Linked DNA regions of Homo sapiens: regions 1, 3 and 4 are each reported to be linked to region 2. The links are microRNA targets in miRTarBase. Many come from high-throughput screens and were not tested one by one. Region 2 holds a microRNA gene; each other region holds the end of a gene's coding sequence.

Region 1 (5,665 bases), not on the chromosome of region 2:
TGGAAATTGCTCTTTAGAGTATGATGACGTGGGGTGGGCCCAGCACTTTGGAAGGCTGAGGTGGGTGGATCACCTGAGGTCAGGAATTCAAGACCAGCCTGGCCAACATGGTGAAACCCCATCTCTACTAAAAATACAAAAATTAGCTGGGTGTGGTGGCGGGCACCTGTAATCCCACCTACTCGGGAGGCTGAGGCAGGAGAATCGCTTGAACGTGGGAGGCGGAGGTTGCAGTGAGCCAAGATGGCACCACTGCACTCCAGCCTGGGCAACAACAGTGAAACTCTGTTTCAAAAGAAAAGAATATGATGACCTAAAGATCACTCTTGTTTCCTACAGGATGTTCATGTATCGGAGACAAATGTGACCAGTCATGTTCACTCTGATAGGCTAAAGCAGAAAGGTATACTCATAAATAATTATCAACATGGGTTAATCCCAACTACAAAACCTTCTGTAACATCACACTCAGTGATAATTGTGTTTCCTAAGTACCTCTGTTCATTGGAGTTTCTATATTAGGTACATCTGAAAATAATACTGGAAAGGGTTAGAGAAACAGATAACGTCGATGGCGTGCTTACGCTTGCCACATGATGGAACACTAGGCTTTCACAAATGAAGAAATAAGCTCACTCCAGTGGCAGGGTGGGGTCTGAATCGAGACCTGTCTGATCTATACCCAAAGGAGTATTCCACCTTCAGTAGGGTAGAAAAGCTTCCTGTAGCCTCTTTCATCCATTTCTCACTGTGGTGAGAAATGTCTAGCTAGTTTGGGAAAGGGCCCTATGTCTGAGATTGTAGGTGCTATCTTTAGAAAAGGTCTCGGTGGCTCACAGCTGTAATCCCAGCACTTTGGGAGATCGAGGTGGGTGGATCATCTGAGGTCAGGAGTTTGAGATCAGCCTGGCCAACATGGTGAAACCCCGTCTCTACTAAAAATACAAAAATCAGCCGGGCGTGGTGGTGGGCGCCTATAATCCCAGCTACTCGGGAGGCTGAGGCAGGAGAATCGCTTGAACCCGGGAGGCGGAGACTGCAGTGAGCCAAGATGGCACCACTGCACTCCAGCCTGAGCAACAGAATGAGACTCGGTCTCAAAAAAAAGTCCCACTGCGCAAGTTTGTCAAGGATGTGTCCCAGGGCAGTTACCCGGAAGCAGGGATGTGGGTCCCTGCTCCTAACAAACACCTGCTATGGACAGAGTTGTCCTACTCCTCCTAGTACCTGCCTGAGGAGGCAGTAAGGAAGGCAGGGGGACTAGGAAGGCTGAGGCAGGAGAATCGCTTGAACCCAGGAGGCGGAGGCTGCAGTGAGGAAACAGACCTGAGGAAACTGGACTTTTGTACTTTGTTCTTATATGACAATCAGGCCAAGTTTAGTCATTTACATACATTAACTCTTAATCCCAAAAAAGATGATTTTGTCCTCCAACAACGCTGTGAGGTAAATAAGGCAGGCTGACAACCCCCTGCAACCCTGATGTTTTTTCAAATGAGGAAGCTGGAATTTGTGACCCAGTGGGCCCGGTGGTTATCAGCTGGACCTTGAGGCCAGAGTTGAGTTCAGAATGGGGGTCACCCCCTTCCTAGCCGCCCTTGGGGAAGTTCACATCACATACCAGTTGAAGGCATCACCCTTCTTTCTTAGATGACTACTGCCTTCTCATATATATGTATTTTTTTTTCTCTTTAGTTCCGTGTTAGTATTAATATGTTTTTCTTTTTCTATTTTTTTTTTAGATGGAGTGTCGCTCTGTCACCCAGGTTGGAGTGCAGTGGCGTGATGTTGGCTCACTGCATCCTCCACCTCCCAGGTTTAAGCAGTTCTTCTGCCTCCACCTCCCAAGTAGCTGGAATTACTGCAGCCTTGACCTCCTGACCTCAAGTGATCCTCCCACCTCAGCCTCCCTAGTAGCTGGGACTACAGGAACGAGTCCACACATCGGGCTAATTTTTGCATTTTTTTAGAGAGAGAGGGGTTTTGCCATGTTGCCCAGGCTGGTGATCTGCCCCACCTTGGCCTCACAAAGTGCTGGGATTACAGGTGTGAGTCTCCATGCCCAGACTTTACATTTATTTCCAAGGTCAACAGGACAGTTTTTTTTTTTTTCGAGACAGAGTTTCGCTCTTGTCACCCAGGCTTAAGTGCAATGGCGCGATCACAGCTCACTGCAACCTCGCCTCCCAGGCTCAAGCGATTCTCCTGCCTTAGCCTCCCTAGTAGCTGGGATTACAAGCGCCCGCCACCATGTCCAGCTAATTTTTGTATTTTTAGTAGGGATGGTGTTTTACCATGTTGGCCAGGCTGGTCTTGAACTCCTGACCTCAGTTCATCCACCCACCTCGGCCTCTCAAAGTGCTGGGATTACAGGCGTGAGCCACGGCGCCCAGCTGACAGTTGTTTTCTTTGTAACTTGTGTTCAACAAAATCTTATTACGTAAAAAAACGAATTTTAGAACTCTAAAGTAAAAAAAAAAAAAAAAAAAAAAAAACTTCCAGGCTTGGCATGGTGGCTCATGCCTGTAATCCCAGCACTTTGGGAGGCCAAAGTGGTCAGGAGGTCAGGAGTTTGAGAGCCGCCTGGCCAACATGGCAAAACCCCTTTTCTACTAAAAATACAAAATTAGCTGGGCATAGTGGTGCATGCCTGTAATCCCAGCTACTCAGGAGGCTGAGGCAAGAGAATCACTTGAACCCACCCAGGAGGTGGAGGTTGCGGTGAGCCGAGATTATTCCACTGCGTTCCAGCCTGGGTGACAGGGTGAGACTCCATCTCAAAAAAATTAAAAAAAGAAAAAAAGAAAACTTACATCTACCTTATGTGCTTCCAGCAAGGCAACATTTCCAAGTTTTTTCAGAGAAAAAAGTACTGCAGTGAAAGATGGGGAAGGGCTAGTCATTAGCACCTGTCAGGCCTGATTCAGGACCCCCCCCTTTGCATCGCAGAGACCAAATCACAGTGATTTGCACCTTCAAACACCTCCTTTCCTTTCTTTCGGTACATCAGATGGCATGAGACCGTGACCTTCTCACCCTCCTACCCTGCGCACCTCTTTGGTACTGAGCCTCTGTGGATAACACATCAGAACGGGAAGTGCAGGCTACTTCTTAGGCATTGTTACGGTGTCCGCGCCAGACTTCACCAAGGGGGAAGGTTTTCAGCCATCTTCTTTAGAACATCCTTCTTGGGTCAAAAGGACCACTTGAAGCAAAGGTGCTTTTTGGGCAATAAGACTCGGCCTCACATTTTATGATTTTTTTTTTAGAAACCTCAAATCTGAACTGTTTGCTCCTGCTGTGGGTTAATGGCACATGTAGAGGCACAGACCCTCCATATGGCCCCTAGAACAAGTCCCAGCTGTTACTTGCTGGTCACGGAGACGACTCACCCTGAGACTTGACTTCTCACACTTATGAAACCTATACCCAATAGAACAAAACATCCGGGGACTCAGTTCCTTCATTCAGGTTTCTATTTTTATTCAACTACAAGCAAACAGCACAATTAATGCAACATTCAGCAACTCCAGACCAGCTTTTCTTACCCCCATGAAGAACGATCAATTTAAAAAACACAGATCTCAGGTTTCCTCCCAAGCTGTCAGCGAGCGCTGCTACCGGTCTAGATTGCCATGTCCCAACAACAGCAAAGCCACCCTCCCTCCTGCTTCTTCCAGGATTGCTCTTTAAAGGGACCAGAGTGACATACTGATGCCTACTGAGGCATCTGAGATGCACTGTGTTGGAGGTTAGCCTCAATGCCAGCCTCTGGTTGTCTAGGTGAGTGACATCACCATAAAATCACATTGTGTACCATTCTGGACTCAGGATCACAAAGGCAGAGGCAACCAATCTTTTTTTTTTTTTTTTTTTTTAAACCTCCCTTAAAGATTCTTTGATGCTTTGCTCTATCACTGTAGACCTGGTCTTTTTCCCCCCAGTTTTTTCTTTTTTACATTCTGGGTTGCTATTTTCAGATTAATAATTTGATGACCCCATCACAGTACCAAAATACCCCCCAAAATGAAGTTCAAATTTGATCAAAACATAAATCAGAGTGAGTGAGTAAAATTATAAAGGCCAGGCAGCAGGAAAAGTCACCCTCAACTACCATCTGACTGGTCAGGTCTCACCCATGCCAAGGGGGGCAGGAAGAGGAGAAATCTATTATACATGCAACACTGAACTGGGGAACATGGCTTGGGGCCTCCAGGACAGTTCAGGTCCCCAAGCTAACCCCCTACTTCCCAGACAGCTGCTCGTACAGTTTGGGCACATAGTCATCCCACTCGGCCTGGTAACACGTGCCAGCCACCGGGGCCCTGAGCTCATACTTTTTACGGAAGGACGCCACCTTGAATTTGCCACGGTGGTCTCCAGATCGGTTGCTGAGGATGGGCTCGTCACACTTTAGCGGCCTGTCCTGCTCGTAAACCAGCCAGACATAGCGGTGGAGGCCTGTGGGGAGAGGCAGAGGGAAGATGTACACACAGCCCAGCACTTGAGATGGGGACATCATCCATTTTTATCGAATGTTTCAACATGGAGGCACCCAGACCACACCATTTACAAGGAGGACACCGAGGGTCCAGACAGGTATTTGGTGCAAATTAACATTTAATGGCAATTAACACATTAATGGCAAAAACCGCAATTACTTTTGCATCAACCTAATAGAATGTGTTAGGCCCCTGCTGTAACTGGTGTCAAGCCCAAGCCCTTAGTTCCAGCCTCTCCTGGCCTGTGGGATCTGGCCTCTGCACCCCCTTATCCTCGCCTCCCAACGAGCCTCTGTGCTCTTCATTCATCCCACTTCAGGCTCCCGGACCTTCTCAAGTCACCACCCACCACCCCCCATCAGAACACCCATTTCACTTCTGTCAGGTAGGAGCAACCAATTAAGGACAAAGCAAATCAATGACCCGGGCCCACCATACCACAGTCGAGCCTCTAGGATAAAGGAGAACATTTTCTTTCTACCTCCAAAATTTACTTGCTTAGAAAACTGGAGGACTACTTCGAAGTGACCCAACCTCACTTTAACTAAGCAGCTTTCTACAAGCTTCAATGATGTACTGGATGCAAATAGGTACCATGAGCTCTTATTTTTTTAAAAAGTGGGTTTTTTTTTTTTTTTTGAGACGGAGTCTCACTCTGTTGCCTAGGCGTGGAGTGCAGTGGCATGATCTCGGCTCACTACAACCTCAGCCTCCTGGGTTCAAGCAATTCTCCTGCCTCAGCCTCCTGAGTAGCTAGGATTACAGGTACGTGCCACCACGCCCAGTTATGTTTTGTTTTGTTTTGTTTTTGTATTTTTAGTAGAGACCAGGTTTCACCATGTTGGCAAAACTCCTGACCTCAAGTGATCCACCCATCTCGCCCTCCCAAAGTGCTGGGATTACAGCTGTGAGCCACTGCACCCGGCCAGAAACAAAGTTATTTTTTAAAAAGTTGTTTAAATATTTGCACACCCATGTTCAATGCAGCAGTATTCACAATAGCCAAGAAGCAGAAGCAACCCGACTGTCCACTGATGGATGAAAAGATGATCAGAATGTGGTTTATACACACAACAGAATATTATCCAGCCTTTTATTTTTTCTTTACTCCCCTGTGTTACTCTAGGACTATTCAGCCTTAAAAAGAAATTCAGACACATGCT
Region 2 (5,665 bases):
CCACTGCTGGAATCACTGGCAGAATAAATTCAACTCTTCCTGTTTTTTTGCATCACGTAATGCAAAACCAAGCATTGATTGGCCAAGCTTGGGGCAGGGAGAGCAAGTATTTGGCCTTCTGCAGAAGAAGGCTAGGCCCTGCCTCCACCACGACTGCTGCAGGAGATTCCCCAACCTAGGAAGTGGTTCAGATGCTGGCATGGTCAACGGAGGATCAGAGCTGAAGCACATCAATCTTGGTGTCCTGATGTCAGAGACCCAGCTCTGCTAGTGTGTGGACACCTGTCACAATTACACAAGTCAACTTGCTCACTGACCTGTTCCCCATCCCTGAGAAATAAAATGTGGATCTGAAGTCTTCCTCATATATGTGCAAAATGAACAGGCTACAGCACTTAAAGGTGAAAAGCATCCAGACTTCTTCATGCAGGAGATGGAGTAGAAGGATGTCTTGTCTATGGAGTAGAAGGATGAAGCCTTGGATGCAATTCATGATCAAGCCAAGAGGAGGAGGAGGAGAGCAGAGGACTCCACCAAGCAGAGCTCAAAGCCTTTGATCATTGCACACCCACTTGGACATTCTATGGGGCCCAAAGGTAACCTTGAGGCCCTGAAGCACCACCAAAGGTGGTGTGCCCTCAAAGCAGAGGAACACTGTCTAGCCCCTAGTTATACAACATTAATAACAAATAACCATAATAACACTTATGTGTCAGATACTCCACTAAGCGCTTTATATGGATTATCTTATTTCATGCTGACATGATCCCTTTAATGTAAGTCACATTAATTTTTTAAGGTAAGTCATTATCATCCCTATTTTAAAGATAAACAAACTGAAGCTTGAAGATATTGTTTAACTTGCTCAAGACCACATAGTAAGTGGCAGAACAAGAATTTGAATTCAGGCAATTTTATTTCCAGGGCCTACCCTAGTTCTTCCCCTTTTCTTTAGGAATCACAAACTGGAGGCCCAACGTAGATGCCACTGCCATGTTCTGCACAACCATTTAGTTTGGTCCCCTGCTCTGAGTATTAAAAAGTTGTGTATTCCATAATGGCTGTACCAGTTACCAAATAAGAGCATACAAGGGTTCCTTTTTCTCCGCATCCTTATCAACACATTATCTTTTGTCTTTTTGATAACAGCCATCCTAACAAGTATGAGATGATATCTCATTTCTCAATGATTAGTGAAGTTGAACATTTTTTCTTATACCTATTGGCCATTTGTATATCTATTCTGAGAAATGTCTTTTCAGGTCCTTTGCCCCTTTTTTCACCCAGTTATTTGTTTTCTTGCCATTGAGTTCTTTGAGTTCCTTATATAGTTTGGATGGTAACTCCTTATCAGATATATGGTTCACAAATATTTTCTCCTGTTCCATAAACTGTCTCTCTACTCTGTTGATCGTTTCCTTTACTGTGCAAAAGGTTTTTAGTTCCTCCAGCTTTGTTCTGTTTGCTCCAAATTGCTTTGACTATTTGAGATCTTTTGTGGTTTACATGAAATGTATGGTTTTTTTTTCTATTTCTGTAAAAATGTCATTGGAATTTTGGGGGGCATTTTATTAAATCTATAGATTGTTTTAGGTAGTATGGACATTTAAACAATATCAATTTTTCAATCCACGAACATGGGATGTTTTTCCATTCGTCTGTGTCTTCTTTAATTTTTTCATCAATGTATTATAGTTTTCAGATCTTTCACCTTTTTGGTTAGATTCATTCCTAAGTATTTTTAAATACTATTTTAAATGGGATTGCCTAATGCTGGGAGCAGTGGCTTATGCCTGTAATCCCAGCACTTTGGGAGGCTGAGGCCGGTGGATCATGAGGTCAGAAGTTCAAGACCAGCCTGGCCAACATGGTGAAACCCCGTCTCTACTAAAAACACAAAAATTAGCCGGGCGTGGTGGCGCATGTCTGTAATCCCAGCTACTTGGGAGGCAAAGGCAGGAGAATTGCTTGAACCTGGGAGGCAGAGGCTGCAGTGAGCCGAGATCATACCACTGCACTCCACTCCAGTCTGGGCAACAGAACAAGACTCTATCTCGAGAAATAAATAAATAAATAATGGGATTGCCTGATATCTTTTGCAGATTGTTAACATACAGAAATGCTATGGGCTTTTATATATCAATTTTGTATTCTGCAACGTTACCCAATTTATTAGTTTAACAGTTTTTTGGTGGAATATTTAGGGTTTTCTATGTATAAAACCATGTTGTCTGCAAACAAAAACAATTTAACTTCTTTCATTCTGATTTAGGTGACTTTTGTTTCTTTTTCTTGCTTCATTGCTCTGGCTAGAACTTCCTTTATGATGTTGAGAAGTGGCAAAATGAGCCCCCTTGTCATGTTCCTGATCTTAGAGAAAAAGTTTTCAACTTTTCATCATTTTCACCATCAAGTATGATGTTAGCTGTGGGATTGCCATACATAGACTTTATTGTGTTGATCAACAATAAAGTTCATGTATGGCAATCCCACAGCTTTATTCCTTCTATACCTAATTTATTGAGGTTTTTTAAAGTCATAAAAGGATGTAGAAATTTGTCTGTATCTATTGATATGATCATATGTTTTCCTGAGAAAAAGTAAAAATAGAACTACTATATGATCCAGCAATTCTACTTCTGGCTATATATGCAGAGGAAATGAAACCAGTATGTTGAAGAAATATCTGCATTCCCATGTTCAATGTAGCATCATTCAAAATAGCCAAGATATGGAATCAATCTAAGTGTCCATCAGTGGATGAATGGATAAAGAAAATGTGGCATATATACATAATGGAATACTATTCAGCCTTTATAAAAAGGAAATTCTATCATTTACAACAACATGAATAACACTGAAGGATATTATGTTAAGTGAAATAAGCCAGACATAAAAAGACAAATACTGTACTTATATGTAGAATCTAAAAAAGTCTAACTCACAGAAGCATCAAGAAAAATGGTGGTTACCACAGGCTGAAGGGGTGGGGAGAGATTGAGAAGGTCAGAGGATATGAAATTTCAGTTAGACAGGAGGAATAAGTTCATATCTATTGCACAATATGGTGACTATAGTTAATAAAAATGTATTGTATACTTGAAAATTGCTAAAAGAATAGATTTTAAGTGTCATCACCTCAAAAAAAATAAGTATGTGAAGTAATGGACATTTTAATTAGCTTGATTTAGCCATTCCACAATGCACACATATATCAAAAGATAATGTTGTACAGCATAAATATATGCAATTTTTATTTGTCATTTAAAATGTATAAAAATTATTGCTGTGTACCCAGGCAAGCATGATGCCTGGTGGAAGAAGTAGCTCAGTACCAAATTTTGTGCTTGCTACCAGACTGACTTCTTTGCCCACCTCCTCCCACAGGTATTGACACTAGTGGGCCCTGCTCTGTTTGACAAATCATACACTGCCATTATCCATATATTGCTTCTCCATAAAATGAGAGGGTTGGACTAGGTGGTCTATCTCAAAGGTTCTTTTCAATTCTAAATGTTATAGAACTACCATTTTCCAGACGCTGGGCCATCCTCTTGTATCTAGTAGCCAGGGGTTCAGATCAGCAAGGTGATCAGCCATTCTCAGTCAGGCAGCCCAGAGAAACATAACCTCAACCTTGCTATCTCTGTGTCCAGCCATTGACGCCCACAGAGCACACCCCTTCAACTCTAGGCCAAAGAAAAGCATGAGGAAAGAAAGCTGATTTTTGTTAAATTACTGATTTCTACTTCCACAAGGATTAAGTAAAAATCTTTTCAAATATTAGGGAAGAAATACGTTCTAAAGCACATGAGGAAAGATTAGTCCAAGTGGTCTTAGGTTGCATTTTAGTAATGTGGGTTTTCTGCCCCAGGGAGAAGCAAAGTTGTTGAAAGATGGGAAAGTCTTCAGAGTGGTGCGAGAGAATTGCTGGGATCCAGAAGTTCGTATTAGAGAAATGGACCAAAAAGGTACGATGAGAAGTGCTACCAATGTTAGCATCTGATGTAAAAGCAATGTCTGCCCTTAAAGTTTGCTGACAACTTTATGTGATGGTAACTTCTGACCCCCTTTTCTCTGCCAGGACAGGCTGTTCCAGCTTCACTGTGGGAGGGACAGGGCCTTCCACTACAATGCTTTTAGAGTGTGGATTCAAAATGTTTCATATGAGTTATACCCTGTTTTAAAATAGAATGCTATATCATGAAAAAGATAAAAATGGCATTTTATTATTTTTAAAAATTAGTTCAAATGTATAGTATTTACTTATTATAAAATCAATTAAAATAGTAAAAACTGGAAATCACAAAACTAAGAATGACAATTGCCTGCTTAATAACACTTAAGATCCAATTTCTTTCTGTAGTTTGTCTCGGTGCATCATACACAGAACATTCCCACTGACACATCAGGGTTGGAAATGGAAGCAGTTAAAAATAGTTAATTGTGTAATCTCAGAATACACTACAATAAAATCAATCCAGAAATTTGAAAGAAGAGAATTAGGAAGTGTTCGTTTCAAAGCTGAATTGCTAAAAAGCTATAAGAACATCTTGCACTTTTTACCTTATATCTAAAAATCAAACAAGTCCTCACAATTTAAAAGAATTTCAGAAAAGGCACAGTAACAGTTTGGGAGGCCAAGGCAGGTGGATCACCTGAGGTCAGGAGTTTGAGACCAGCCTGGCCAACATGGCAAAACCCTATTTCTACTAAACATACAAAAATTAGCCAGGCATGCTGGCGCGTGCCTGTAATCCCAGATGCTCAGGAGACAAAGGCACAAGAATCGCTTGAACCCAGGAGGCGGAGTTTGCAGTGAGCCGACATTGCACCACCGCACTCCAGCCTGGGCAACAAAGTGAGACTCTGTCTCAAAACAAAACAAAATGAAATTTCCAAGTCTATCTAAAGTATGACATGATGGCCACATTATGCTTCACCTGTGACTGCCTGGTTGACTGTGCCACCTGAGGAGAACATGCTCCAAGAAAATGCCTGAGCCTTCCAGACACATGTGGGCTGTGTCCATGGGCTGTGATGGGGAACTGACCACCACTGACATTGTCAGAACTAAGTGTTTACATTGGTGGAAGATTTCAACCAGAAAAGAAACAATTCAAACACACAAATAAAAGAGCAGTTTAGCACTACCACCTTCCTAATCAAAGACAAATTGTAAGAAGTTCAAATATACAAAGAGATGGCAGGAGACATTTTATTCCAAGGTCTGCAAAAAAGGAATCAAACGGTCAGCCTAAAGTGAGTAGGTGGTCTCCAGCATGTTGGAATTTGTTGTAGATACCTTTGTCCAGGTTTTGCTTTATATATTTTTTAACAATTAAAAATAGAGCCAGGTGTGGTAGTTCATGCCTATAATCCCAGCATGTTAGGAGGCCACGTCAGGAGGATCCCTTGAGCCCAGGAGTTCAGGATCAGTCTGGGAAACACAGTGAGACCCTGTCTCCACAAAAAAAAAAAAAAAAAAAAAAAATTATCTAGGTGTGGTGGCATGCACCTGTGATCCCAGCTACTCAGGAGGCTGAGGTGGGAGGATCACCTGAGCCCAGGAGTTTGAGGCTGCAGTGAGCTGTGATTGCACCACTACACTCCAGCCTAGTGGTGGAGCAAGACCCTGTCTCTAAAAAAATTTTTTAATTAAAAA
Region 3 (5,665 bases), not on the chromosome of region 2:
GTCCTGTCAGTATTTGACTTTTTAAATGATGCATACGTATTGCTTTGATAAAAACAGAAACAAAGATTGTTCTGAAATTAGTAACATCCGTAACTTCAAAGATGATTATTACAGGTGACAAAGGTAATCAAAAGTTATTTTAAACTTTTGTCTTTAAGCATTGAAATGATATTACTGTCTGTCACGACAATCTTTTCAATTTGGAATTCTTCTTTTTTTCTTTTTTTCAGTTTGTATGCCAGAAGAAGGGTTTAAAGGTAAGTTACATTTGTCATGTTTTGTTCATGAATGTCAGAGTCATCCTGTAATTTTCTGTTAAAGCGAAGGCTATAATTTGATTTTAAATTTTAATCCAATCTGAGTCTCATGACTGAAATTAATTTTAGTTAAATGCATTTCTTACTCAAGCTTCTTCATTATCTTTTTCAACACTCAGGCCTCAAATGGGGCCTCAGCTGGGGCTTTTGTGTTAGAACTGTTTCTTGCCAGATGTCCATTTGGCCTTCCCTTTCTCATTTTATGGGAGGTTGGGAAATTAGCTAGTGGCATTTCAAGATTTATTTTTAACCTTTTCCCAGTTCTTCCTATCAAGTCCCCTCCTAGAGCAAAACAGTGTGTAACTATTAAGAATTAGTGGCACAAGAATTTGTCAGGTTTTATCAAGTCCAGTGAAAAGATTTAATTAATCACTTAGCATTAAGGCATTTGTTGGATTATTACTTCAAGAGGAGACACGGTGGTGCTCGTACTACATCTGGGCCATGTAGTTGTGCACACCGATAATATTCAAGAAGTCATCAAATACAGACCTCTGACGTTTTCGGATTTTCCTGTTGCTGTCTTGATTCTTTGCTGGCCACTCCAGAAGCCCCTGGCAGGTTGTGATTTTCTAAGGAATGACTTTGAATCACATACCAGCTATTCCTTGCTAAAGCAAATGAGAGACAAATCTACTGGCCAAAATAAAGTCTTCCTCTTGCTGCAGCTGTGTTGTCTGCATGCTACCATTACAAAGGGACTCCTGATGGGGTCAAAACAAAGCAAAAAACGTCTTTATGAAAAATGGTCATTGGCCGGGCATGGTGGCTCACGCCTGTAATCCCAGCACTTTTGGAGGTTGAGACGGGTGGGTCACTTGAGGTCAGGAGTTCGAGACCAGTCTGGCCAACATGGTGAAACCCCATCTCTACTAAAAATACAAAAATTAGCCGGGCATGGTGGCGTGCGCCTGTAATCTCAGCTACTTGGGAGGCTGAGGCAGGAGAATGCTTGAACCTGGGAGATAAGGTTGCAGTGAGCCAGGATTGCACCACTGCACTCCAGCCTGGGCGACAAGAGTGAAACTCTCAGAAAAGAAGAATGGTCATTAAATGAAAGAATCAATAAAATCTGGTTAGTTTGTGTGAAGATACACTTAGGAAGCACATGGCTTTCAACAAAAATGTGATTTAGCGGAGAGCCTGGAGTCTGCTGGTATTTTGTCTTATCCTCCCACACCAAGGTGCGACTGTGTTCATTTATTAAATTTGATGCTCCCTGTTGATGATGTGTTCTTGGTAAATGGAATCCATGAACTTTTAATCTGTAGTTCACAACTATCCCTCCACGTGTGTTTCTTTTCCCAGGTACTGGTCTTCTTGGACATTAATCTTTGAATACTTGCTGACTGCTAAGAAATGACCAGAGGGGAAGAGGAGTTTGACATGTTAGGGCATTAAAGCAAAGGTGGATTTAAGAATTAAACCATTACATGCCCCTTCCAAAAGGCAGAAATCCATTCAAACGTGACTGTCCCAAATGCCTTATGTCAAATAAAGCAGATTGCACTGATGGACATCAGACTTGAAGGAAATGTTTCCAATTTTATATTTAAGGGGGGTGGTGGGTGGGAGGGGGCAAGTAAAGACGGAACAAGTTTAGTAGCAGTAATAGTAAATCATGTTTACATATGAGATTTATAGTCGTGGGAGGGGAATAAAGTTCTGTTATATTTCCTTGCTCGAGTTTCATACCAGATGCGTTGGTCCATAAAGGATTGTATCAAGTAGATGGGACAACATTCTGCTCTGAACGAAAAGTAATTTTAGAGACATAACCTGCTTACCAATGCCTGTCTTTGATTCATATTCTACTTTCAATAAAGCATGAAAGTGAAGAACTTGTCCTAAGTGTGGAAAAGTGTCTTCAGATTTAGACTCTTCTCCATGTCAGCTGCAGCGCCACCCGCCTTACACCTGCCCGGCCGTCTGTCTCTTGGTATTGGGTAAAGGAGGGGGCACCTGCATGTCTCCTGCAATGAGCAAGGAATTATGTCTCATGTTTTGACTTCAGAGGCTTTTTGCTTTGGTGCATTTCAGAAAGGATGGAGAACATTTATTATGTGTGAAAGCATCCTCTTCCGGTTTTGCTGTTATTCAAAAGTGGGAAATGTACCTGGCACGTTTGAAAATAAAAAATCTGACTACCTATCAGAAGAGTAAATCAGACTGAAGTACATTTGGATAACACAAGGTTTCTATAAAATTTGTTCTTCCTGTCCTCCATGTCACTGTTTCTTGGACCTCAGTTCTCTTTTTGAAAGCATTATTCCAAAATGCCCTGAGAGGGTCTCTTAGATCATTGTTTAAAAAAGGAAAAAAGTATATGGATGTGCTGTCCATCCAACTCAGGATTATCATTCTTAGCAACACGTAACCGAAGCAATATTCTTAAGAATATTGAAGGGGTTTTTTTAATTGAACTTAAGACTGGAGTTTTTCCTTTGAAAAAAAAAAAAAAGTTTTCTCTGTTGAGTCCGTCTGTGTAAGTTTGTGGCTGAGATGCTAGCTTAGGCATCTCTCTTGTTAACACTTTTCTTGGCCTTGGGTTTGTGCAAGGCTTTTTCCCCCTTTCATGAAAATGTGAACTCAGATCATGGATGGGGAAGGCAGATTTTGATTTGAGACCCGATAACCTTGGCAGCATCCCTTTTGAATAGCTCCTTTTGTCAGAGTAATTACGGCCATTTGGTAAAATTCTAACTTCGTGTTTGTGTTTCCCCTCTGTGTTTCTAATGTCTTCAGTCTGTGTCCCCTGAGGAGGCAGGGGGTCTCTAATGAGCCTATCTATGGGGGAAGGTGAGAGCTGCACACAGCCCCCTGAGAAACCATCCTAGGAGTGGAACCAAGGGACCAACTGTTCTGGCCTTGAGGTTGGCACAGGGGAAGGACTTGAAGTTGAGCTGATGGATCCTGATTTTTAGATCTCATTGTTTTATTAGCTCCAAAGAAATGAATGCAGGAGCCTAAAACTAATAACACAAACTTCTTCTTTCCCAAGGTAAAGACTTTTATAAAAGTTCGCACAATGCTTGATTGAAGCCACTTCCTTTTCCTTACAAAGAAGCTTGTTGGCCAGAGAAGGTTCTTTTTGGGGATTGACATAAACATGTTAGCAGCCCCCAGAAATCTGATATATTTTCCCCAATTTGCTGTTGATAACAGTTTTGAAATTTGTTACTTGGGTATTTTTTCCTCCTGCAATGCTACGAAATAACAGCCTTTTGTAAATCTTTCAGGCTGGTGGTACCTGCTCTGAGTACTGGCTTCTTTATTATCTCTGTCCAGGGGTGGGGTGGGCACCGAGTGAGCAGGTGATGCTGCAAGAGTCTGCCCTTGGCTCAGGGTCATCTTCCTCCTGCTCTGACAACTTGCCTTGTTCTGCCAGCACTGCTGAAAGTAACTGCAGCCCAGCGGCTCCAGTGACACTGTGAAGCTTTATTACCAAGGCAGGAGCTCAGGCCCTAGACCCGCTGAATCGGAATCTGCATCCACAGGCCACTCCTGTACTCTTTGAAACCCTGGGCTTGGGGCCTCTCCCACCCATAGTAGGCAGAGTTGCAAAGAAACGTATGCTTGTATTGAATGGTTTTGCATTGCCACCCTTCTCACTTGGTACAGGGAAAAACAGGTAAAGGGTATGACCTAAAGCCCGATTCTCGTTTCGTCTGTAATTATGAATAGATGGAGTCCATTTGCCTTCTGGACTGTGAAAAGTTCAGAGACTCTTTGTGTTGGGGTTCTAATGCCATGCATGTGTACTTTTTTATATTAGATCAGTCTCCGGTATAAGGTATTATGAAGCTTGGGTCTTTTCCCCTTGATATTTCTGACCATTCTTTAATCTGAAACGAATGTGTTCAGCATACTACACTGGTACAGATTGTCACCACGAACTGAAATATAGGCTGCATTTGGGTGTCTTCATTTCCTGGGGAGTAAGTATCTTTCTGTGTATTTATGAACTCTATTGTTTAGAATTACTGTTACCTTCCTGCCAAATTTAAAAGATATGAGTGTCCCTTTATTTCTGTGGGAGCATAATCCATAGTGAATTTTTTGGTTATTTTAAATGTGCTTTTGGTTGGTCTATGTGGTCATAGATCTGTTCATCAGACTCTGGTTAATATTGGAATCTAATGCTCAGGTTGAATAACCTGTTTTAAAAACCCAAGGGATGATTTATCTCTGTCTAAACAAACCGCTGAAGCGAAATGAGCAAGAAAGCCTGTCTTTCCTGTTACCGAATCATGGGGCAGAATCATATCCTTTCTCTTGGGTACTTTAGTCCTCAGCTCATTCAGTGTTAATAGGGGACTGCGAACAGAGTGCATGCAGATTAAAAGCCAGCGTTTTCATTTTAAGAAGATTTTCCCAGCCTGAGAAACATAGTGAGACTTCATCTCTATAAAAAAGCAAAAATTAGCCAGGTATGCCGGTGGTCCCAGCTACTCTGGAGGCTGAGGCAGGATAATTGCTTGACCCCAGGAGGTCGAGGCTGCGGTGAGCTGTGATCACACCACTGCACTCAGCTTGGGCGACAGAGTGAGACCTTGTCACAAAAAAAAAATGTGCATGTCTGTGATAACGCCCCATACTCCCACCCCCACCCCAGAGTACAGGGTTTTGTCAACAACATTTCTACTTCTGAAAGCTGGCATCACCACCCCCACCCAAAACACACACACACGCGCGCGCGCACACACACACACACACACACACACCCATCTCCTAGACATTCTGTAGGCAGAAATACTGGCTGGGGATTTATCAACATTATTCGAACCCTCTATTTTTCATTAAAGTACAAATTATAAACATTTGTAAAATGGTAGGTAGCACTTTGTTGATTTCCCTGAGCAACATTTCTGTGTCAGGTAGTGTGTGCCAGGTAGACAGTCTCATTGGCAGACAAAACCACTTCTCCATCCCATATATCTCAAACCTTGGATTTTTTTTTTTTTTTTTTTTCCATTCTGGCTGTTAATTGGGCTAAGGAGTCTGCTAGCTATCCAGATAGCACATAAACATACAGGCAAGTGTTGAAAGTGTGGAGTTGTAGAAGTTGGGCCACCTGTGTTACAGATAATTTCACCATTTACCTTGTAACCAAGAAAAGTGACTTAATCTTGCTTTACCTTAATTTCTTCATCTCTCAAAATAGCAGTATTTGCTATTTTTGTTTACTACACTCAGAGGATTAAACAGTAATAAATATTGTTGAGGTAAAAGGCTTTGTATTTTTCTTTGCATTTAGAAGAACTGTTGCCTTTCTGAGGAAATGCTGTTGGAATCTCTTTTGCAAGTCTTCAAAAAGAGGCCTTGTAACCACCTAGCAAAGCTACCTG
Region 4 (5,374 bases), not on the chromosome of region 2:
CTTCATGTTTTTGTTTCCAACTCAGAGAAAATGAGAATAATGAAGATACTCTTCCTTGCTCGTTTTTCTTAAGAGTACATAAAGATAATATATAATGTATTTCATTGAGGAGGAAGAGAAGTAGCAAGGATTTCAATGAAGACATAATGATTACAAACCAGTGTACTATACAGATTTCAGAAGCAGAAACAATGCTGAACAGCCTGCTCAAGTTTTAAATAAACTGTCTTCTCACTCAAAGTACTGATACAACAGAGAAGGTATGTAAACAGGAACAGTTTGCATGGGGATTGGAAAAATGTATAGGAAATTAATATTTCTTAAAAGCTCCCTGCGATAGGAAGTCGAAAACCCAATCACTTTGCATCTTTCTGCAAAAAATTCCCCACCCAATCAACCATATAAATGCATTGCCACAGAAGATAAATAATGGATGGCTAATTTTCACCTTACAGTGCAGTACACAATTAGTTGAGAAAAAAAATAAACATAAGATATATATTATAAAATGTTTTGTCAACAAAAACAAACTTTGAGAAACATGGCGCACTATAAAAGCTAAGAAACTCATTCACGAAGCACTGCTTGTGTACACCACATATTCCAGACTTTTTCCAAGTAACATTCTATGTTAACAGTTTAGAGCTACTAATTCAGAGAGGTCTTATTTCTCACTGCTTGCATTTTAAAGAAATATGTCTAAAGCGCATTGTAAACCACTAATATTTACAATAGCAAAAAAAAAAGCTCATAAAATGCATTTTGGCCATGTTTCAGAGAATACTTAACAGGTCAACATCGTTCTGTGTTGTGGTTGGCCTTGTGTCTTACATACAGGAGATGCCTAACATCTAATAACCAAGAGTTTCAACTGAATTATATAACCATTTTCTTCAATACTTACATGTGCCAATTTTAGGCAGAAACCACAGTATGATATTCCAGGTGGTGTGGTAATCCCAACCTTGAAAAAAAGCCCAACGAATGTAATTTTTTGTTTTCTAGGTACAAAGCATAAAAAACTAGCCCCAGGTAAGGCAAACAAAAAGTCAATAAGGAAATCTGGAAAAAAAGGCCATTGCAGTTATACACAAATCTGTTCATGTTGCCAAACAAAATCTCATGGCTGAACTTCTGTAGCTTGTGAGGTACTAACAACTTACATGCAATGTATGAAAAAGAGACGCCGTGTATTCAGAGTTTTACATCCTGAAGACATTAAGCTGGTCTATTTTCAAGTTACCAATGCATGGCCCTATAACAAACATCGTATAAAACATACACACCTTCATGGAAACTATCTTATCTCCCAACTCTGGTAAACACAAATAGTAAGAGAAAACAACTTCTAACTCACTTTGACAAAACTTTACAGACTTGGCCCCTAATTAGACAACAAATAAATAAAGGGGAAGTCAAAACGGAAGGGGCAATAAGGAGAAAGGGGGAATCTAACTCTTGTTCTAAAGAGACATTCTGGCACTTCATCACAGCCAGTAGAAGAACAATGTAAAACCTCCATCTCACTACACATTTGACGTCTTCCACTCCAAACGCTCTAATCTAGTCAGAAAAGAGCACAGCTCTTCGCTGAAAGTCCCCCAGGGTTCCCTGCATCAAGCCACTACAGGGTTATTGAAAAATATAATACTTCACTTAAGGATATGCTGCTTTTCTCCTTGAAAACATTTTGTAGACCTGTACTCATTTAATTAGGGTTGCAGAGGAGATGGAAAAACAAGCTGTTTGATTATGAAGGCAACACTTCTGTCAGTAGAATTGCTTTGGATTGTAAATATGTTTACTTCAGAGGAAATCAGTCAGAGTGGATGGCTCAGCAAAACCCATCACAACTGCGGAAAAAGGAAGTGACTGGCTAGAGGTAAGGAAATAGATTTTCTCTAAGTTAACTGGCCTACGTGTGAATCGAACCCTGCACCCTGGCCTCATTAGCACCAACACTGTGAAGAACAGCTGTGGCAGAGAAAGTGCCACGGCCCCACCCCATCACCAGATTCAGTAGAAAGGCCCTTGGAATTTCCTACAAGGTTCAGTTCTGAACAGCTCCACTTCAAATCAGTATAGAATCCTCACAGTGACTCTGTGAGGGAGGTAAATGTCACTGCTCCCCGTTGGTGGGGGAAACAGAGGCCAGAGTGGTTAAAGATTTTGCCTGAAGTTAAAACAAAAAATGAAAAGTCACTTGGACTGCAGGGAAGAATACTTACAATACAAGGCAATTAAAAAAAAAAAAAGAAAAAAGTTGAGCCAACCTGTCACTCTTCACTCAGATGCCATGAAAGACATCATCACCAGACAGTCCCCACACTCTTGCCACTTGGCAGGACAGGCTCCATGACAGAGGATTTTTCACTCTGTGGAAATATAAAGCCTATCTCTTTTCCCATGGGCAGAGAGAAATATGAAGTCACTTGAGTGCCTGGACAAGTACTTCCAAATTTATAGCTGATGCGAGGTGAGGAGTGGACAGAATTGGCGGGAAGGAATAGTAACAAATTAAATACTGCACTAATGGGTTAGTTACAGACATGAATTTTTCCAAATATAATCTCACAGGTCTAATTTAATCCCTCTGCACGAGACAAGTGCCTCTGTCTACAACACCTGTAATGTCTGTACCACGTCATGCAGTCACATTGGAATTACTGCATGCACTCTTCACTAAAGCTTAATGTACCTGAATTCCAAATGAACTGTATGACTAATCTGGGGAAAAACCATACACACAGAATACATCAAGTTTTCTTTCAAAAGAAAGTCCAGCCATAATTCCATTATATCCATGGCAACTATCACCTGTTAATGCTAATGTTAGTGTGTAAAAATGTATTCATCATATACAGAGAGATTATCAAGTACTGGTCAATAAAGTGTACAGCTGACCCTGAGAATAAATTTTTGCTTGCTTAAAAGATTAAGTAATACAAAATAAAATGAAAATGAAAGATGCCTATTCTCGTACTTGGGAAGAAATGTCTTTAAAATGCTGACTAATGTATAACCTAATATATTTAAAGACACCCCCAAACACTGTAATTATATTGATATGTTTCCAGAAATAATCTGAAAAAGTGTACAAAAAAAGTAAATGTTAAAGGCAAGGCATTATGTGATACACAGCATATAAATCTGATTTTCAAGATAGTGTCTAAATACACTGATAAAACTATGTGATTGGTTATCAATTGGTTGTAAAGAGACAACATTTTCACTGTACATATACACACATCCATACATGTAAGCACAAACCAAGAGAAACCAACCAACAAAACTTGAAACTATTAGTAATTGTACTGACGCGGGCAGGGCTGATGAACAACCCAGCCATTGTGCTTGACTTGCCGAGGGTGGCAATCCCTGGTAAGATTTTGGCGACGAAGGCTATTTCTGTTAAGAGGCTGTCTTTCACTGTGTTCTTTTATCCACTGGGAAGGGCGAAAGCTCTTGGGTTGTTCCAGAAAAGTTGTATGAGCAGCAAGAGCTGCAACATAACAATGAATATGCTGCCCCATTTCATTTTGAGCTTCCACTCTGAAACAGAAAAAAGTGGGGATGTATTAAATAACAGAGTATGTTATTAACAAAACTGGAAAAGTTACTTAGCAATTCAATTTGCCACGCTAATTTGTTTATGGCTGAATGAGAGCTTGTGTTTCATGGCTGACAGACAAGTTTATTATTCTGTGACCCCACTGACTGATAGTGGTGGAAAGGAGAGCCAACTGTTACTAGAAAGATGCCATATAAGCCCCAGATGGCTCACTAAGTAGACTGTTTTCTAAAAATACACTTTAAACTTTGAATTTCATTTACGGAGCACACACATTTATATAAGCTTGTCTGGGAGGGGAGCTAACATTTATTGAATATCTGCATTTGCCAATTCTTTTGCAAATATATATTTTAATTCTCACCATAATCTTAAAAGGAAAATATTTTAATTCCCAAATTTTACTGATCAGAAAGCAGTGTGCTCACAATACCTTCACAAGACATTTCCTGTCTATAAGTAAAATGTTCCAGGAAACATGCTTTAAATCTTTATTTAATAGAAATTTGCATATGGAAATTCTACTCATTTGCCATTTTTCTAGATAAAAAGCTATAGCTTAATAGAATAAATCTCTTAAGTTTTTCTTTATCTCACAACAGGGCACATTTTGAGATGGTATTTACATGGCAATATAAGACTCTTGAATAACACAATCTTAAAATTGGCTACACACAGTATGATTATGTTTTCCATATAAAAAAGCTAATCAAGTAGGATTGCTGTAAACTATGTCAACACGTAACATGAAGAGCTGTATGATTTTTAAGAGTTATTTTACACAGGAAGGGCAGTGACACATTCTGCCTAAAATCACTTGAGGAAACACACATATTTATTACACACACACACACACACACACATAAAATTTTTTTAAAGTAGAATTTTAAGAGGCCACAATAAGAAACTAATAGAAAAAAGTTAATATAAAGAAAATTATTTTTAGGCCAGGCGCTGTGGCTCGCTCTTGTAATCCCAACACTTTGGGAGGCTGAGGCAGGTGGATCACCTTAATAGAGTTCAAGACCAGCCTGGCCAACATGGTGAAACCCCATCTCTACTAAAAATACAAAAATTAGCCAGGTGTGGTGATGCAAGCCTGTAATCCCAGCTACTTGGGAGGCTGAAACAAGAGAATCACTTGAATCTGGGGGGTGGAGGCTGCTGTGAGCCAATATCACACCATTGCACTCCAGCCTGAGTGACAGAGTGAGACTCCATCTCAAAAAAAGAAAGAAAGTCATTTTTAAAAGGTCAGCATTTGGGTCCTTTGCCTCCCTATGCATACATATATCACACAGTCTCAAAGTGAATATACTTACTCTGTGCCCGTGAGTCTTATAAGCAGCTTTTCCTGGCCCTACAAATGTTAAATGGTGAACTATTAAATCACTAGTAAGATTTAAAATGCTATTGTAACTTTACTATTAGGACGTGGTCAACTTTTATTAAAACTGGTTTACTATGTGCCATTAAAGGCACGTACATGTGCTTAAGATAACATGTAAAACCTTCAAAAACAATACTTATAAAGGCTAAAATGCAATGAAATGTATACCCTGAAGCCCACTGTAATTACAAAGCACCTCAATTTTCTGTGCTTTATGGTAATATCCCCAATGATAGACACAATGGAAGCAATCTGACTTCTGAAAGACATATGATTCATTTCCTGCTAAGAAAACAGATATTTACTACAAAGCTAGCCTAATTTTGGTAACACCTGATTTCCACCTTGATTTAGCAAGACTTCCTTATAAGAATTTCAAATCCCTGCCGGGCACGGTGGCTCACGCCTGTAAT

Evidence for each region. Region 2 holds the annotated microRNA hsa-miR-5590-3p (AAUAAAGUUCAUGUAUGGCAA, at 2,467-2,487, shown strand). A microRNA usually pairs through its seed, bases 2 to 8, with sites in the 3' UTR of a target mRNA and lowers its output. Matches are read on the target gene's strand: a 7mer-m8 pairs with bases 2 to 8, a 7mer-A1 pairs with bases 2 to 7 and ends in A, and an 8mer does both.
Region 1: the mRNA of PEBP1 is a reported target of hsa-miR-5590-3p. Seed matches in the 3' UTR shown: 7mer-A1 at 4,076-4,082.
Region 3: miRTarBase lists USP48 as a target of hsa-miR-5590-3p. The part of its 3' UTR that is shown has no 7-base or 8-base seed match.
Region 4: the mRNA of TP53INP1 is a reported target of hsa-miR-5590-3p. Seed matches in the 3' UTR shown: 7mer-m8 at 2,887-2,893 and 7mer-A1 at 2,385-2,391.

What each region holds. Positions count from the first base shown.
Region 1 is chr12:118,143,382-118,149,046 of GRCh38, reverse strand. PEBP1 (phosphatidylethanolamine binding protein 1) reads right to left here. Exons shown (of 4, transcript NM_002567.4): 4 at 3,463-4,461. The coding sequence ends at 4,244. Among named protein-coding and RNA genes, the nearest start is that of PEBP1, 10 kb to the right of the region's middle.
Region 2 is chr2:134,855,387-134,861,051 of GRCh38, forward strand. MIR5590 (microRNA 5590) reads left to right here and starts at 2,434; the gene lies at 2,434-2,487. ACMSD (aminocarboxymuconate semialdehyde decarboxylase) reads left to right here. Exons shown (of 10, transcript NM_138326.3): 3 at 3,875-3,971. RefSeq lists a silencer at 3,539-3,739.
Region 3 is chr1:21,675,400-21,681,064 of GRCh38, reverse strand. USP48 (ubiquitin specific peptidase 48) reads left to right here. Exons shown (of 27, transcript NM_032236.8): 26 at 231-257; 27 at 1,626-2,767. The coding sequence ends at 1,648. Among named protein-coding and RNA genes, the nearest start is that of RAP1GAP, 8.9 kb to the right of the region's middle.
Region 4 is chr8:94,927,177-94,932,550 of GRCh38, forward strand. It overlaps TP53INP1 (tumor protein p53 inducible nuclear protein 1), which reads right to left. Exons shown (of 4, transcript NM_033285.4): 4 at 1-3,552. The coding sequence ends at 3,303. It also overlaps a transcript of NDUFAF6 not described here. Among named protein-coding and RNA genes, the nearest start is that of TP53INP1, 20 kb to the right of the region's middle.